Regions from separate parts of the Homo sapiens genome. Here region 2 is linked to region 1. Evidence: fine-mapped expression QTL. A gene starts in region 1. The other region holds a variant in brackets. All regions are shown on one strand. Distances are between the middles of the regions. Region 1 holds the start of JAK2 (Janus kinase 2). Region 2 has its middle 43 kb from the start of JAK2.

Evidence for each region. PIP is the estimated chance that this variant, and not a neighbour inherited with it, causes the effect.
Region 2: its variant is fine-mapped to the expression of JAK2 in whole blood (TOPMed, PIP 0.96).

The regions. Positions count from the first base shown.
Region 1 is chr9:4,980,722-4,990,220 of GRCh38, forward strand. JAK2 (Janus kinase 2) reads left to right here and starts at 4,551. Exons shown (of 25, transcript NM_004972.4): 1 at 4,551-4,909; 2 at 5,219-5,301. RefSeq lists silencers at 2,504-2,633, 4,084-4,133, 4,174-4,253, 4,644-4,973 and enhancers at 3,602-4,435, 4,364-4,503, 5,304-5,353.
Region 2 is chr9:4,937,453-4,946,951 of GRCh38, forward strand. It overlaps the pseudogene HNRNPA1P41. Among named protein-coding and RNA genes, the nearest start is that of JAK2, 43 kb to the right of the region's middle. The variant G/C (reference allele first, on the strand shown) is at 5,094.

The DNA.
Region 1 (9,499 bases):
AGACTCTGATGGCTCAGCTTGGTCCAATCAAGGGGTTGTGGGAAGCAGGGTGTCACAAACTAGAACGTAGGTGCCAGAGGCTGGCTACTCTGGGTGAAGAGGACAGTTCTCAGCAAAGAGGACAGAATCCTTAGTCTAAATTAGGACTCAGGAATTAAGTCTCTGAGTCTCTGTAAACTAACAATTATGCTAGGGATTTATTTTTATTTTTTATTTTATTTTATTTTATTTTTTGAGATGGGAGTCTTGCTCTGTTGCCCAGGCTGGAGTGCAGTAGCATGATCTCGGCTCACTGCAACCTCCACCTCCCAGGTTCAAGTGAATCTCCTGCCGCAGCCTCCTGAGTAGCTGGGACTATAGGCACATGCCACCATGCCTGGCTAATTTTTTGTATTTTTAGTAGAGACAGGGTTTCACCATGTTAGCCAGGAGATCTTGATCTCCTGACCTTGTGATCCACCCACGCTGGACTCCCAAAGTGCTGGGATTACAGGTGTGAGCCACTGCGCCTGGCCGAAATTTTGTTTTTAAGAGTGAATGCTGGCATGAATCCTTTCACACACACAAAAAATGTTTTTCGTGAATAGGCAACTATATGTCTAACAGTTTTAAGTTAAATTTTTTAAAAGTAGCACATAGTTATAATGGTCATTTTACATATTTTGCCAAATAATTATCCTCACTTGAAAGAGGTTATTAATTCTTGGCTTACAAAGGGAAAACTGTTTTGGTTTTCAAGCACCAAAGTTTAATACATCCAGTTATCTCAAGGGAATGAGGGATCTGTTCACTGGCAATATCTTTTTTGTTTTCCTTTTCTTTTTGTGATTGAAAGTAAGGATAAGGGAACTGATGTAGAGACAAGGACATGCTGAAGTACCGAGGAGGTATTGGAAAATTTCTTTGCCATAGCCAACCAAATTTTGGAATAAATGGTACTAAAATATCTGGATGATTTGTAGTAAAAAAAACATTGCTTGCTTGTCTGTCTACTTGATTAATACCCCTTGCCTTTGTCTTTTGGCTTATAATCCTACATTTGGAATAAATAAGCCTCTTTCCATATTTTATTCCTTTCTGCCTTCAGGAAAGTACATCTTCCCTGTTTTGGAAAGAAACAAACTAACTCCTGGACTTCTCCCCAGCCCTTCGTTTGAGCCTGTTTCCCTTTCCAAGGACTTTCCTGCATCTTTTTTTGTGCTCACATTTATGTCCCTCCTTAAGAATGATGTTTTCAGTCTCATCATTTAATGATATAGTTCTGTTTTTTAAAATTCAAATGGAGATCTTCACATTTATCTCTATTACAACTCAGCCCTTATCCTACCAGCCCACACAGTCCTGTGTAGTGCAATAAACTGTGACAAATACTTCAATCTTCCTAATAAAATTCAACAAATTTCTTATACCTCCCAGCTTGGTTATATCTGTAAATTGGTCCTGCCACAGATATAATAGACATTTGATAACTGTGCTAAGGGTTTTAAAATACTTTTTCACCTAATCTTCAAAATCTCTCTACAGGGGAGATTATTATCCTCATTATACTGATGAGGAAACAGAGGCTTAGAAAATCTAAATAAACTTTCCTGGCAAAAGCTGTGATTGAAAGAAACCTGGGTGGTCTGGACTCTTAAAGCGTAAGTTCTTAAACCCTTGGCCATGGATTTTCAACCGTGGCTTTATGTCAAACCACCTAAAAATGTTAAAAAGTTATAGAAGCCAATGCGCCATCTCACACTTACTGAGGCAGTCTTGTTGGGGTGGGGGGAAGGTTTGGGCATAGCAGTCAAGAATCACTGCTGCCATGCTGGCCAACACTGGAAGGACAAAACCTCAAGACACTACACACAGCCCCACAGTCAACAACTAGCTGTTAAGTTTTCCCATTAGATCTTGCCACAAAGTTTTGAATCTAAATGTGTTACCTTACAGCTCATATTTCTTGTTTCTTCATATTGTATGAATGTTTTGAAAGACTTGGTCAAATTCCTTGGAATTCTTTTCATCATTATCAAAGAATAAGGGAAATTTCCTGAAATGTTTGCCTTGAGTAGCAAATTTCTAGTGATGCCACTACCAGGAATCACATAAAGAGCTCAAAAGTTCTGTTAATACAGAGTGAAAAAAGCTCAACATTCCAGGTTAGCATTGACTTAAAATCATGTCTTAGTGATGAGGGAGGCTTTCACTTTCTGAATGACAGGAGGCAAGTTGCTTCATCTTTCTATGTGGGGAGACAGAAGATTTCTCAATTCTATAGGCTTATGAATAATATACCCCTTGTCCACCTTGTCTTCCATACCCACATCTCTAATATTAAGAAAATAACCTGCTCCCCCACAAAAATATCCTCAATATTCACCACTTCCAAATGGCTTCTCCCTGCAATTCACCAATTTCAAATGGCTTCTCCCTGCAAACAGGCTGTGGACAGTAAGAGATACCATGCCTAGTTACATAAGTATATCACTGCAAAATATAGAAACATCACTTATAATGAAAGTAATACTGTTTCAGAGTTCTAAAACAAGCATTTTCTTCCCCTCACAAAATATCACATTTCCATTTCCACAGTTGTGATGCTTTTCATTTACCCATGACGTTAAGCTCATCTTTAGCTCTTCTTCATTATGTGGGTCTGTGTTCTAGCTTTTACCTCAGTAGCAGTTTTTGTTTGCAGGAAAAAAGGAACTCTTTTGGTAGTCACTGTTTGTAATTGCGGCCTTGATATTCTAAGCCATTGAGTCACAATTAATAATTAGAAATTCTTACTAACTTTGCCCATATATTACCTATGAAGCAGTAGCCGTAGGAATGCAATTTTCCTGTAAATCCCTCCCTCTTATACAGCTCTAGTTCATTATTTAAAAGATTCAGGGTGAATTCAAGTAATTTCCTATGCTGCTATCATTTGCTTAAAGACCTTTTGCAATGGGTCTTATGTAAGAAGAAATGCAGGAGTTGCTTTGGTGAGGTTTATTTAAAGAAACCATTAAGTGCAAGACAGACCTGAAGAGCAGCATCAGTTGTGTATGGGGAAACAGGAGCTATGAATGCGTCACTTCATTTAGGTTGACAGAAAGAGGGCTAATACTTGAAAAAAATCCCTACACGATCTGGTGCCAGGCTACTTCTTTGGCCTCACCTCTTACCACTGCCCCCTCCTTCCGTGTCCTCCAGCCACAGTGACCTCTTTCCTGATCCTTGAACTTGCCAAACACTTTCCCTTCTCAAGGTCTTTGCCTTCAGGAGTCCCTCTGCCTGAAATTCTTTTCCCAGATAGTCATGGGACTGGTTCATTCTCATCCTTCAGATCTCTGCTCAAATGTCACTTATTCTAGGAAATCGTTCCTGGCCACCGTAAAATAGCACACCCCCTCCTCACTTTCTACTCCTTTTCTTTGTTATTATGTATATGGCAGCAGAAAACTATGCATTTTCTTAGTGGCAATTACACACCCCGCACATTATGCATTTAAAGCGTTGTTTGTTGTTTTGTCGCTTCCATCAGAATACAATCCAGTAGGGCAAGGAGTGTGTGGGGTCGTGTTCACCTGGTATCTCTGGGGACCTACAGCCCGGCACCTAGTAGACACTCAGTAAATATTTGAATGAATGAATGAGGCCCTTTGGCAGCCGGGAAGCCCGTCACAGCCGTTGTCTCCACCCTCTCCCGGGCTACACCAGGCCACGCCGGTAAAGTTGTTTCTCCTCTAGGAGAAACATTCGCTAGGCCTTGTTGCCAACCCGCAGGCGGCTGGGCGCTTCATCCCACCCTCACCCCTTTCCAGCCAAGGTGGCTGATGGGAGTCAGGCTCTCGAGGGCGCATTGCCACGAAACAGCGTGTGTGAGCGCGTTGTCCCCGGCCCCCGGCGCCACTTCCCCTCGGCCTAGCAGCCTGGACTGGGGAAGGACGGGTCTGCTGTACCCGGGAGGTGGAAGGAAAAGCCGAAAGCGGAGAAGTGTGCGGGAGGGGAGTCTCCGCGCGGAGGCAGCCCGGCCTCCTCCAGTGCAGGCTGCGCGCTGGGGAGCCAGCCAGGGTGAGTCACTCCCGGCCGCTTCCCTGGAGGGCGGCGGCCACACACACACCCGCCCATCTAGTGAGGGCCGGGCCCAGCGCTGGCGCCTAGCTCCAGCCGGGCACCAGCGTTTCGCGAGGCGCCGCCGCCTTAACTTCCTTGCGCGCTCACGCCCAGGGGCCGTCCCAGGAATCTCCACGCGCGCTCGCCGGCTTCCCGAGAGGCAGCTGCCCTGCGTGGCCCGCGCCTGCCGGTCCCGCGACCAGCACCGAGCGGCGCACGCGCACTGCAGGACGCGCGTCCGGCTCTCCCCCAGCCTCTATCCGGCCCGGTCTCCTGCCATTCGGGGAGACTGCAGGCCAACCGGGAGGCTGAGTTCGAAGCTAGCAGGGCGGCGAAGCCAGTGTCGCCCGCGGCGTTGAGAAGACGGTGTGGCCCCGGAGAGGGTGGAGACAACTGTGACGGGCTTCCCGGCTGCCCGAAGTGGGAGTGGTGTGGGGCTGCAGGAAGGAGAGAGGAAGAGGAGCAGAAGGGGGCAGCAGCGGACGCCGCTAACGGCCTCCCTCGGCGCTGACAGGCTGGGCCGGCGCCCGGCTCGCTTGGGTGTTCGCGTCGCCACTTCGGCTTCTCGGCCGGTCGGGCCCCTCGGCCCGGGCTTGCGGCGCGCGTCGGGGCTGAGGGCTGCTGCGGCGCAGGGAGAGGCCTGGTCCTCGCTGCCGAGGGATGTGAGTGGGAGCTGAGCCCACACTGGAGGGCCCCCGAGGGCCCAGCCTGGAGGTCGTTCAGAGCCGTGCCCGTCCCGGGGCTTCGCAGACCTTGACCCGCCGGGTAGGAGCCGCCCCTGCGGGCTCGAGGGCGCGCTCTGGTCGCCCGATCTGTGTAGCCGGTGGGTGTTATCTCTGCCTGGCTTCTGGGTGGGGGGCAGCAGCTGTCTCTCCACCCCCTTCCTACCTTTTGGTCCCGCCTGCCCCCTGCTAGTGGCAGCAAACTTCTGAGCCAGAAAAATCTTCCTCTTTAAGACGACACCTAGAACGAGTCTTGCTGGTGATATTTGCTTCCATTTGTGTCTTATAATTCCCTCGCTCCCGCCTCCTTATTCCTTTTTAAAATTTTCTAGACACTTAAACAGCCTAGAAAAAGCATTTGTTTCCCCTGGATTTATGTGGTAGTAGTTAACTGCTGCTTCTGTTTTTAGGTTTCAGAAGCAGGCAACAGGAACAAGATGTGAACTGTTTCTCTTCTGCAGAAAAAGAGGCTCTTCCTCCTCCTCCCGCGACGGTGGGTGTGCTGTCCTTTATCGCTGCAGTAAAGGCGAAGGTGTCTGGAGCTGGGAGTGCGTGCGTAGGGAAGGTTGGAAGCGTGTGAAGAGAGGCAGGGCTCATTGTTGCTTACTCTTCTGAAAATGTCAGTGCTAAACTTTTAATGTTGATCTGGGAGAGTAATTTTGGGGTGTTTTGTTGTTCGTCTTGGATCCTTTAAGAAACATTTTTTTGTTGGCTTTACACATAACGTGACTTTGCAGAGAAACGAAAAACGTTGTCCATTACCCTTTCTTCTTAAGCAGCCAGAGATTCTTAATCCTTTAAAGAGGAGTATTTCCAAGCAATAAGAGATAGCTTTTGGGAGAACACGTTAGCTATTCTTGCTGGGGTTTCTGCTACCACATTGAATGTTTCCTCATGGTTTTATCTGCCTAAGCTTGCTGTGTCGGTTGAATTTACCCAGTTTGTTTTCCAGTAATTACTAATCTGTTAGGAGAAACTCCATTTCTCTGAATGAAAGGGTAGGAGCGGCTGAGTATGGAGAAGGAAACTGGAAGTGGGAATAAGGGAAATGATTGCTTTTGGTTTCATAATAAGTTTGTACAGTGAGTTGTTGGGCTACTGCAAATAAAGATTTTGTATCCCTTCTCCAGAATGCTTGGGACCAAAAGTGTTTTGGATTTTTTTTAAAAATTTTGGAATGTTTGCATATACAAAATCAGACATCTTGAGGATGGGACCCAAGTGTAAATACGAAATTCGTTTGTTTCATATAGACCTTATTCACACAGCCACTAAGTCATTTGCAATATTTTTAATACGTCTGTGCATGAAACAAAGTTTGTATTAAGTACCTATGCGGGGAATTTTCCCCTTGTAGCATCATGTTGGTGCTCAAAATGTTTCAGATTTTGCAGCTTTTCAGATAAGGGATGATCAGCTTGTATTTTGATATAACACCCAGAACATTTGAAGATGAATAATCAATTTTTGGCCTCCCTTCCCCCATCCGCCTCACCTTATACCACTTTAAGTGTGAGAATTATTTGCTTGTACATGCATTTGTCTGTTGGTGTGTAACGTATGTACAGACTGGATGTATCCAGCACTTGCCTTAATAGTACATGTATTTACCTGAATAGGAAAGCTGCAGTACTTGCTGGCCAGAAGAGCACACCATGCTTGTTTTTGCTCTAACTGAATATCCTGTATTTGCAATTTATAGCAGTTTTAGGGACTCATTAGGGAATTTTGTGTGTGTGTGCCTTTGGTGATTTGAGACAGGTGTCTCAGATATGGGAAGGGAATATGACATTGTTTCTCTTTCACCTGGCTATTACTGAAAGGTGGGATGCTTTTGAGGCAGAATAGGAAAGTGCATTGGCTTTGGAGTGAGATCTGGATTTGAATCCTGGTGTTCTTGCCACTTAAGAGTTGCATTATTTACGGCTGGTCATGGTGGCTCACGCCTGTAATCCCAGCACTTTGGGAGGCTGAGGAAGGAGGATCACTTGAGGTGAGGAGCTTGAGACCAGCCTGGCCAACATGGTGAAACCCCATCTCTACTAAAAATACAAAAATTAGCCGGGCGTGGTGGTGCACACCTGTAATCCCAGCTACTCGGGAGGGTGAGGCAGGAGAATTGCTTGAACCTGGGAAGTGGTGGTTGCAGTGAGCCGAGATCTCACCACTGCACTCCAGGCTGGGCAACACAGCAAGACTCTGTCTAAAAAAAAAAAAAAAAAGAAAGAAAAAAAGAGTTATATTATTTACGACTCTTTTAGCTTCACTTTCTTATAAGATTGTTGTGAGAAGTGAGTAAGACACATGCAAAGTGGTAAACTGCCTGGCTGTCATAAAAGTCTTGGCTACTATCACGGCTGGGAGGCAAAGGAGATTCAGAGAAGGGCAGAATGACTGCATAAGGTGATCTGCCTGTAACTCGTGTTTCCTCCTTTCTAGTATAAAGAGATAAAGGACTTCAAGGTCTTAAACTGGTGAGGGAGTATTACAGCCTTTGTATGGAAAGGTTTGACTTTGTGTCTCTGCTTAAACCCCCATTGTGTTGCCCCTACCAATTATTGTGCTGCCCCCTTGTGGTTAACTGTGCTAAGACCTTTCTTTTGCTCTTCTCCCATTACATTTCCCACCCTTCCCCACTCCCTTTTAGACCCCTCCTCTTAGCTCCCAGTTTCCCAAACTGTGTGCCAAGGTGCCCAGAGCACCTCAGGCTTGAACTTGTGTTTTGAGTTGGTTCATGGTTTCAATATTAGATACCTACACCCGTTTCTACAATGTCATGTCTTTGTAAAGATGTATTTTCAGAGGTTGCTCCGATAAAAAGCAACTACTACATGAAAATGAATGTAGAACAGGAAATGACAGTGTGGTATTGTCCAATTTGATTCTAAGGTTTGATAAGTTCTACAGTGCTCTACACTAAGTTGTAAGGACATAACTACTAAGTAAGTTGTTCAAACCTATTTCTTTTGGCCTGGGGGTGTCGTGAAAAATTTGCTAAGACTCAGAGCTCCCTGAATGGGTTTGGAAACCTCTGCCTTAGCTTTTAGTTTGCTTTTCTGATAAAATTATTGATATAAAGCTAGTACCAGCTGATCATGGCTTAATATATTTCCTCTCCTATGTAATATGTTTATAACTTCTGCCCAGTTCTTTCATTTTAAAACTAATCCTATTGCTAACTTGTTGTACTAGTCACTTCCTGGTTTTTCCTGTACTGGTCTTCTGCTTCTACTTCTGTTCATCTCCTTAAACTCCGAATGCCCCAAGTGAAAGTTACCATTTTCTACCCCTTAATTTTCTTCTAATCATGTAGGCTTTAAATTAGGCATCATCTTTAAACTACTTCTTTCATTTACCTCTTATTCCCATTCAAAATGTCCATATTTCCTTTCTTTCTCATATCTCTGCTTTCCCTCCTTTACTGTGTGAATCCCAGGACACATTTCCTGAGCCTAGAATATTGAAAGTCATTTGAACTTCTGAGAATTCAGTGTCCCTTCCTTCTGTTTATCCTCAATAGAGATTCCACTCTAATACTCCTTATTATAGCATTCCCTTGCCCCAAAACCTTCAGTGGCTTACCATTTTCTACTTATTAAATTTTCCTGACTTTTAAGATAGTCTATTATCAATCCCTGCCCTATTTATTTAGTCTTTTGTCTAAGGATCTCTAGTCCTTAAGCTTGTAAGCTGATTTCCACACTTTCTAATAATAAGCTATGCTTCTTCTATCCTTTAATTTTTGCCCATGTTCTCCATCCCTCTTTTTTTTCCTCTATTTCTGTAGCTCTTTAGTCTTAGAACATTTTCACATGGTTTAATTATATGCCATGCTTTAGTTGTTTGATAGTTATTTCCCTAGTGTTAGCCATATCTTTTCAAGTTGATTGTGTATTCTTTGAGGAGCAGTACCTTAGATTAAAAAAAAACCACAACACACAGTGGAGAGCACATGGGCAGCATTCAAGAAATACATGTTGATTGTGTGATAAGGAACTGTAGTCACCAAACAAATATTTGTTAATACTTGCAATGTAAAAGGTACTTGGCTGTATTCAAAAGAGAAATAAAGAAATATAAAATAGGCTCCTTTCCCTAAGGACTTACAGTATAATTGGGCAGATAAGCTAAATAATAAAAGTTACAGATATTTAAGACCACTTGAGTTGAGCAGAGATTTTGCATAATAGGAAGGAACTGGTAGAGGGGGTAAGCAAAGGCAAAATATGTATATATGTATGATATGTTCAGAGAGCAGTACATAAATAACTTGACTGAAATGAAGATTTGTGTGAAAGAGTAGTAAGAAATTGTGTTAAAAATGTAGTTGGAATTTGATTATGGATGTCTTTAAATGCTAGGATGAGAAGAATGTACTTTGACCTGTAGATATGGAGAAGCTTTAAAAGTTTTGAATTGAGAAAGAGTTTGCTGAAATAAGTATTTTAGGAAAATCAAAGCAGCACCAGTGCTAGGTCTCATATGAATTGGAAAGAGAATGGTAGAAAGAGGTAGGAAAATAATTGAGCCCTGAAGTAATGAGGACTTAGAAATAAGTCAGATTGCAGAGATGTCACAAGACATTATTATGGATTGGATAAGAAGGGAGAATGGAGGGGAGAAGAGTGATTAAAGATTACCTTACCTTGAAGGTTTGCTTTTCAGTGACGGAGGAAATCAAAGAGTGTTGA
Region 2 (9,499 bases), 43 kb before region 1:
TGGGCCTGGACAATGCTCTGACTTGTTGGGAAATAAGTAGAGTGAACAACAGTGTCTGTTTGTCTGGGACTGTCCCCATGTTAGCATGGAAAGTTCCATATCTTGGGAAACCCCCAGTCCTGGGCAAACCAGAGCACTGGTCACCCCATACAATCCAAATATACAGTGGAGTATGGCCTCTTAACTGTCACATTAACGTGCTGATAACTTGGACTCTAGTACTTGTAGGGAAAAGATAAATCTTCAAATAAGTAAACAACTAGCCCAGTTTGGGAGGATGTCAGTTCTGCTTTCTCATTAAGATAAGGCAATCTTAAAATCATTAGAGAACTCACAAATGTGGCTATAAAAATAACAACAGTTACATAATTAGATTTCCTTGGCTGAAACCACTAATAAGACATTGCCAAATTTTAGCTTATTGTTGAAGATAAATCTCTCTCACCCATTCTCTCTCTCTCTTACACACACACGTGCACACACACACACACAATTTTTATTTTTCTGGCTTAGCATACTTTTATTTTAATTATAGGTTTTATCGTTTTTCACCATGTTAACAGAACAAAGTTGGTTTGTTGTTGAAGGATATGATTTAAATGGATAGCTATTGCTGTGGTTTACTGAAAGCACAATACTGCATTATTTTGAAAATATGTTTAATGAAGCATATTTTCATTTAAAGCATACCTGTACTTAATGGAAATTTTTGAGATCCATCATTTCTAAAGATGAAGAGAAGAGGCTGTGTAGCCACCAAATGCTTGCTGGCCCTCTAACGCCTAAAGTGCTACATTTATTTATTATAAGAATATAGAGATAATAAGACTGTTTATGAATTACAAATCAATAATGAAATAACTCTTGGGCTAAGGACAAAATCAAATGGAAATTATAAATCACATAAATATGAATGGGCACAGAAGCATTACTCTACAAAATCTGTGGGGTATGGTCAACATGTTGTTCAGAGGGAAATCTATAGCTTTCAATGTCCATATCAGAAAAGAAGAGACATGGAGAATAAATTAACCAAACTTTCAAATCAAAATTTAACTTCCTAATTCAACCATCAAACAAACAAACAAACAAACAAACAAACAAATAAAACACAAAGTAAAGAGAATGGAAAAAAATGTAATGGCAGGAAATAATGTGATAGAAAAGGATAATAGAGGCTGCTGAACTTGAGGAAATCCTCCTTTTACACAACAAGGATGTCAGCTGCCCAGACTCTGACTTGGAGACTCACCTCCCAGCCCAAGGAATATGCGTTATGAGAGTAAGAAATACATGATTACACCTCTGCATGGATGACTGCAAAGGGGACAATAATAACTAACAATAAGACCCATGTGTCAAGCATTATGCCAGGCAGCTTATATAAATTATATGGTTTAGTTGTATTTCTTCCTCATTTTCTGATAAGAATATTGAAACACAGGATGGCCTAGTAATTTCCTCAATACTGAGGGACAGTAATTAATGTAGCTGGAACTTGAACTTCAGAAGGGTTATTAAGTGGGGTTTAATTTACCACATGTTGTTAAAGATGCCATTGGCTTTAGAAACATCTTGTTTTGAAAATTCGTATCTGTTTGGGAAGATCATGATACTATCAGTCGGTCATGCTTTAGAGTGAAATGGTTCAAACAGATTGCTTTCCTTTCAACAGCTAGCTGAGGTTAGCTGTGTTAAGAGAATGGGAGTTTTGAAGTGGTTAAAGAGAAAGAAGTAATGCAGGAGTGGCACTGCTTAGAGGCTAACACCCCCATCGGAATACTGGGCAGCTGGTAAGCAAAAGTACAGAAAGGGAAGTGAGAAGATGCCAAAGATAAACTCTATTTCAAAATTCTGACTATGGTCAGCCCCACCCTCAAGAAGAGAGGGACAGGTTCTTCCTCTTTTTCTGTCCTGTACAAAGCAATCTCCTATTCCCAGGACCAGGAAGTTCAGGTCCAAGGGCCACTCTAAGGAAAATAGAGTTGGAAGGGACTTTAGGGGTCCTATCCAGTCTACTCACCACAAGGCCTCCCACACCCTCCTGCATGAATCCTCCAAACTCCTCCTGACCATCTTTGCATCTTTGTTGCTCCTTTGTTGTCTATTTGGGGCTCGAGTTAGTTGTTAGAAATTCCTTTCTATCAGCCAACAATCTTATCTCCCTTCAACTTCCCCTCATTTGTCTTATATCTGCCCCTGGAATTGCCCAGTCTGTGTGGTATTTGTTCCAATGGAATTTGATCTGTCATATACTGTTGCTTTTGGCTGATTTGCTAAATTGACTGGATCTCTCTCTAAACTCAATGATTTGGATCAAGGTAAATGCTGGTAAAATGTGCCAGCAATTTCTTTTTCAGAAAGATCTTGCTATTGCTCTGTTACTTTTGTTTGTTTGTTTTTTTTTAAAGAATGTTCCCAATAGATTCATTTTGAGGGAATAGATTCACCTATGAATCCATGGAGTGACCCACACAAAACACCTACATAAAAAAGAAACAAAAAGAGTATGTTTTCTTACTGACAAACACTACTTGAAAGCTCTTCAAGTCCTTCGTGGTATAATAAAGTAAATAGATATTGAGAAGAAGAGATCATCTAGTTAACAAACATGGAAAAATGTTCCACCTCACTTTTAATTTTAAAAGTGATAAGATACCCCTTCCATTCATTTGGCTACAAAGCATAGCAACATTTATAATAATATTTAATGTTTGTTAGTACTATAGTACATTACCAGTAGAATTAGAAACGTCTTTTAGAAATTGATTTAGCTATATGTATTGAGATCTTTTAGTTTTATTTATTTAGTAATTTTTAGAGGCAGGGTCTTGCTATGTCGCCCAAGCTGTTCTTGAACTCCTGAGCTCAAGGGATCCTTTTGCTTCAGTCTCCCAAGTAAGTAGAATGACAGGTGCAAGCCACTGCACCTGGCTATCAGGAGATTTTAAAATATTCTCATCCTTTCACCTAGTAGAATCTCCTGGGTATTTGTACTAAGGAAATAATCCAGAGATTAAAAAAATATGCCTACGGTTTGCACTTCTCACAGGAAAATTATTCATAATAGTGAAAAATTAGTCACAGCCTAAAATCTAACAACAGGAAATAGTTTAACTAGATTATGGTGCATCCACTCAATGGAAGATTATACAGCCATTTCAAATAACGATTATGAAAAAAACATTATATGTAATCTATATTGTCCTAGTGGAAATATCTTAGGTAAGTCAATGGTAGCGAATCAGAAAAATATTGAGACTCAGTAGTTTTTAGCCACATGAAAAATTCTTGCAGTATATAAAAAACAATGTATACAAAGAAATGCACCAAAATTATTATTATGACAGAAAAAGGGTGGGAGAAGTGTTTTTATATTTAATCAAGAGCTGTACTGTATAACTGAATTGTTTGCCAGCGGAGCAGAAGGCAGATGGCTTGGTTAAACTCACACATTCTTGCCCACTCCAGCTATTTTTATAAGGCTCTTACGGTTTTAGGATTTTCTTACATTTTTGTTGATTCTTGTACTCTATTTACTTCTTCTCCAACTTCATTATGGAATATTATCTAGTGTTTATTATTTGTCTGGGGTCCCCATTGATATTAGCAAAAAACACTGGTCATTGGGTTGTACTTGATTATTTGAGTCTTCAAAGCTCCTTGTCATTGCATATTGCGGGACTGAGAGTTAATATAAGGATATGATTCTATCAATCAATTTTCACAGATATATATGTCACTGAACACGAAATATGGGATATATTAGTCAGCTATTGTTACAATGCTGAGTAATAAACAGCTCCAAAACTCAGTGGCTCATAAAAATAAGCCTTTATTTTCCTTGTTCATGAGCCTGTGGATGATCTGGGATGCTCTGCTTCTTTTGCAGGACAGCTGGGCTTATATCAAAGCCTCAAGTTGGGATCAGGCCTGCTTCACATGTTCCCAAATCCCATTAGCTATCTGAGGCATATTCTTCTCCTGGTGGATTATGAAAGGCAAGAGGCCAAGTCAGGAGAATTGCTTGAACCCAAGAGGCAGAGACTGCAGTGAGCCGAGATTGTGCCACTGCACTCCAGTCTGGGTGACAGAGTAAGACCCTGTCTAAAAAAAAAAAAAAAAAAAAAAAAAAAGAGGCCAAGTCAAACTACTTAAGGCCTATGCTCATGTGTGCTATCATTTAATTGATCAAACCAAATCACATATGTAATTATGCCCAACATCAATGAGAGAGGGAAATAACTCCCATTAGAAGTTCACCTGACAGAAGGAGGGGGTAAAGAATTGAGAGCAATGATCTAATGTACCATAGGGACAATGTACAAACAGATTAATTTAAATAATTGGAAAGAAATACCTACTGACTTGCAGAATAGGTAGGATTATCTCCATGTGTGAAAAATATCCTATTTTTCGATTAGACTAATGAAAACTTAATAAAATAGTTGTTACCATATATTTCTTTTAAAGAATATGCAGTATCAATATATTTTAAGGACAGCTAAACATCCTGGGTGTTTAGCCAAGTAGAAACTGGTCCAGCTTTGACTATCCTGGGTGTTTAGCCAAGTAGAAACTGGTCTAGTTGTAAGTGGATTTTTTTGTTGTTGTTTATTCTTGGGGACCGAGTCTCGCTTGGTCACCCAGGCTGGAGTGCAGTGGTGCGATCTTGGTTCACTCCAACTTCTGCCTCTGGGGTTCAAGAAATTCTTGCGCCTCAGCCTCCCTAGTAGCTGGGACTACAGGTGTGTGCCACTACACCTAACTATTTTTTTTATTTTTATTTTTTGTATTTTTAGTAGAGATGGGGTTTCACCATGTTGGCCAGGCTGGTCTTGAACTCTTGACCTCAAGTGATCCACCCGCCTTGGCCTCTCAAAGTGCTGGGATTACAGGCATGAGCCACTGTTCCCGGCCTGTAGGTGGATTTCTGGCTTTGGGTTACACACACACACTTGTTTATAGGAGTTTGTAAGTAGGGAGTAAAATGTACTCTGAAAGGAAATCACTTGATAGGAACCACTATTTGGTAAGAAGAGGTGACTCAAGAAAAGAAGTTCCTTGTGGTTTTAAACTTTATTATGCTCCAG[G/C]TCCCTACAAAAATATGCTTTCTTTCTCCTTCTTCTTCTTCTTTTTTTTTAATAAGCTGATTTAAGGCAAAAGCTTTTAGCTAAATGTTACTGCTTTAAATTTTTCAAAACGAGAACACTTCTCAGCAAAATTTTTTATTTCTTTGTTTTAGTGTAGAAAGCAAAAGCAAGGGATAACTAAGTCTGAGTTCAAGCTAGATATATTTGTTTACATTGGAACAACAGCTTTAAAGTCTAGGAAAGAAGTGCTGATAGCTCAGAAGAAAAAGCAAGTAATGGGTTCCAGTAAAGTTGGTTAGGGAATTTTGTTTGTTTAATTTTTAAATTAGTAGGGGCCTTTCTCCAAAATGTTTGTTTTTAAGATTCAGGTTAAAATTTGCATAGATACAAGAGATGTGGGAATTAGTCAATATCAGAGAAAGATGCTGAGGTAATTTCCATTTCAGAAAATTTATCTAGCTTTGCCTAAATGGATAAATGGAGACATTTGAAGCATAAGAGTTTGGCATTTCATGTCCCAGCTTAGAGGACTTCCACTTGAAACAGAACAATTGGTTTGAAGCACAGTATCTAGATCCTTTCTCCAAAGAGAAAGAAAATTGCCCATTCAACCAGCAATTATCTCTAATTAAGGAATGGAAGCACAAGTTTTCGGTAGTATCACTACCTGGCAGTCTGCATGCAATCAAGCAAGGCAAGGTTCCTATATCCACAGGAGTTTTTTCTTGACTAGAAAAAAAAATTAGGATAATTAAGCAAGTTGTAGCAATCATTTTTTACGATCAAAAAGACTGCAACAGATTTAATTAATTCTTTGGTAGATGCAGAAAGTAGTATTTATGCTTTTCTAAAGGCCAGTATTCACCGTGGACTAACAGCAAAATGTTTCAATACCATCTCAGCAGAGTCTGTATTTGATTTCACAGTATTCTGTAAAGTGTCAGGCATTTTAGAGATATCGCTAACAGAAAGGTTATGCTTTCTAAATACAGTCACACAACTACTTCGTACCTATGATATAATTAGACTGTGACACTCTTGAGGACATCTAAACTTCAACCTGTTTAAAAATATAAATCCCTATGAACGATCAAAGAAAATGTGCTTCAGGCAATTTATCTGCAGTAAAATGATTTAACTATGGGACAATCATGTTCATTTCTTCATATCTTTAATATAAAGTTTACCATTTAAAATGATTTCATTGCTTAGCTGGAAAGCTATACTCTACTGACTAGTATAAGATTTTTTAAAATCTTGTTTGTTTCTTCTTCAGAGAAATGGTAGAGTTTTTAAAATAAAAAGTGCATTTATTTCTTTATAACATTAATATCTGTCACTATAAATAACTTGAAAAATCTTCCAAAGTGTCAACACCTGAAGTCAATTGTGTGTTTCCTTTCAGGTTTTTTTTTTTCAAGAGAATTAAATCGTTTATTGATTATGCATGATAATGGAAGGTACACAAACTTCATTCCCATCTATAATTTTATTGGGTACCATTATTCAATTTAGATATATTGCATAGGATATGCCAACAATCGTTTTAATAACCAATAATTCCATGATTTTGCTTTGCTAATCCCTTTTAATGGTGAACTTCAGGTCACAACAGTAACTATCAGTTCAACCACACCAAGGTTTCTGAAGACAATGGTTTCTCCACCCAAGCAGGTTGTATATAAATTCCAAAAAGAACCTGGCATCACCCTGAAGGAACTCTAACTTCACACTGTAGGGGAAATTTACCAAGATGGCTTCAGAGTAGAACAACTTTACACAGCACATTAAAAAAAAAAAAGACATTTATTCAGCGTCCCAATCAGGCTATTATATTTAGCAATCAACAGCATAGGTGAAAAAAAAATCTACATTAAAACCCTTTGTTGGCATGGTTTACACTTTCCACAGAACAGAAACTAAAATAACCTGTTACACAATTAGTCACAAATACAGTCCTCGAGTTTTTTGCCCACACACATGAGTATTTGTCTAAAACATGTCTGCTTTGTAGCAGCTGGGCCCTGCCACCACTGTGCTTGGCTGAGTTCACAAATCTGTTGTAACCTGTAGCTTCCCTGTCACTTCTCTGGCTCTCCTCTCCTGCTAAGCTTTGTTTCCTAATTAAAATCTTCTGCCACTGCCATAGCTACTGCTGCTACTGGAACCACCATAGCCACCTTGGTTTTGTGGTTTGGCAAAGTATTGGCCTCCACCACCACAGGGGACAGAGCTTCTGCCTCCAAAGTTTCCTCCCTTCAGGGGTCCAAAATTTGGAGACTGATTGTTGTAATTGTCAAAATCACTGTAGCTTCCGCCACCTCCAAAATTGCTTCCATCATTACCAAATCCACTGTAGTCATCCCCAGCCACCATATTCACCACCACCACAGCTGCCACCAAAGCCACCACGACCATGGAAGTTTCCTCCATGACCCAAGTTGTCATTCCCGCTGAAACCACCTCCATGACCACCACCAAAGTTTCCAGAACCACTCTTGCTTTGACAGGGCTTTCCTAGCTTCACAGCTGTGGCCATTCAAGTATGCTATTTCTGAATGACAGTCTTATCCATGGAGTCACCGTTGTCAAACGTTACAAAGGCAAAGCCCCTTTTCTTGCCAATGCCTCGGTCAGTCATGATTTCAATCACTTCAATTTTTTCCATACTGTTCAAAATGATCCCTTAGGTGATGTTCTTCAGTGTCTTCTTTAATGCCACCAACAAATATATTTTTCACAGTTAACTGGGCACCTGGTCTTTGAGAATTTTCTCTTGAGACAACTCTCTTTGCTTCTACAACTCTTTTTTTTTTTTTTTTTTTTTTTTTTTTTTTTGAGATGGAGTCTTGCTCTGTCGCCCAGGCTGGAGTGCAGTGGTGCCATCTCAGCTCACTGCAAGCTCCGCCTCTCGGGTTCATGCCATTCTCCTGCCTCAGCCTCCTGTGTGGCTGGGACTACAGGCGCCTGCCACCACATCTGGCTAAGTTTTTGTATTTTTAGTAGAGACGGGTTTCACCGTGTTAGCCAGGATGGTCTCGATCTCCTGACCTCGTGATCCGCCTGCCTTAGCCCCCCAAAGTGCTGGGATTATAGGCGTGAGGTTCTACAACTCTTCCATCTACCTTGTGTGGCCTTGCATTCATGGCTGCATCCACCTCCTCCACAGTGGCACACATGACAAACCCACAGGCCCTGGAGCGCTTGGTGTTTGGATCTCTCATTACCACACAGTCCGTGAGCGTTCCCCATTGCTCAAAATGGCTCCTCAGGCTCTCATTGGTTGTTTCAAAGCTCAACCCTCCAATGAAGAGCTTCCTTAGCTGTTTGGGCTCTTTAGGAGACTCTTGACTTAGACATGACTGACAGGGAGAAGAGAGACTTTAACCATGCTTCCTTGGTGGCCTCCACGGGCAGGTAGGTTTGTTTTGTTTTGTTTTGTTTTGTTTTGTTTTGGTAAATAGTTTTCCCACCATTTTATTATAAGCATTATCAAATATACTGAATAATTGAAATAATCAGAAACAACAAATTTGCATATATCCACCATCTTTTTTTTTTTTTTTGAGACAGAGTTTCCCTCTGTTGCACAGGCTGGAGAGCAATGGGGAATGGGGGGATCTCAGCTCACTGCAACCTCTGTCTCTTGGGTTCAACCAATTCTCATGCTTTAGCCTCCCACGTAGCTGAGATTATGTGCACTGTGCACCACCACATCCGGCTAATTTTTGTATTTTTAGTAGAGATGGGGTTTCACCATGTTGGCCAGGCTGATCTTGAACTCCTAGCCTCATGTCATCTGCCCACCTTGGCCTCTCAAAGTGCTGGGATCACAGGCGTGAGCTACCACATTCAGCCACTACCATCTAGATTCTACAATTAGCAATTAATTTGCTTTATTATACATTTATTCAACCATCTATTTGTTGATACCTCTGTCCATCCATTAATCCATCTTTTTTTTTGAGGCATTTCAAGGTAAGTTGTAGATATCAACATACTTCATTCAATACTTCAGCATGCATATCATTTAGAGTCATGTATATGAGTTTTTCTTGGTAAGATTTTACATATAGTAGATGCACAATCTGTATTTTATTTATTTATTTATTTTTGGAGACAGACCTCTGTCACCCAGGCTGGAGTGCAGTGGTGCTATCATGGCTCACTGAAGCCTCAACTTCCCAGGCTGAAGTAATCTTCCCACCTCAGCCTCCCGAGTAGCTGTGTCTCTAGGTGCATGCCACTAGGCCTAGCTAATTCTTAAAATTTTTTTGTAGAGACAGGGTCTCACAATTTTGCCCAGGCTGGTCTCAAACTCCTGGCCTCAAGTTATCCTCTCACCTTAGCCTCCCAAGTAGCTTAAATTACTGGCATAAGCCACCATGCCCAGCTTTGATGCACAA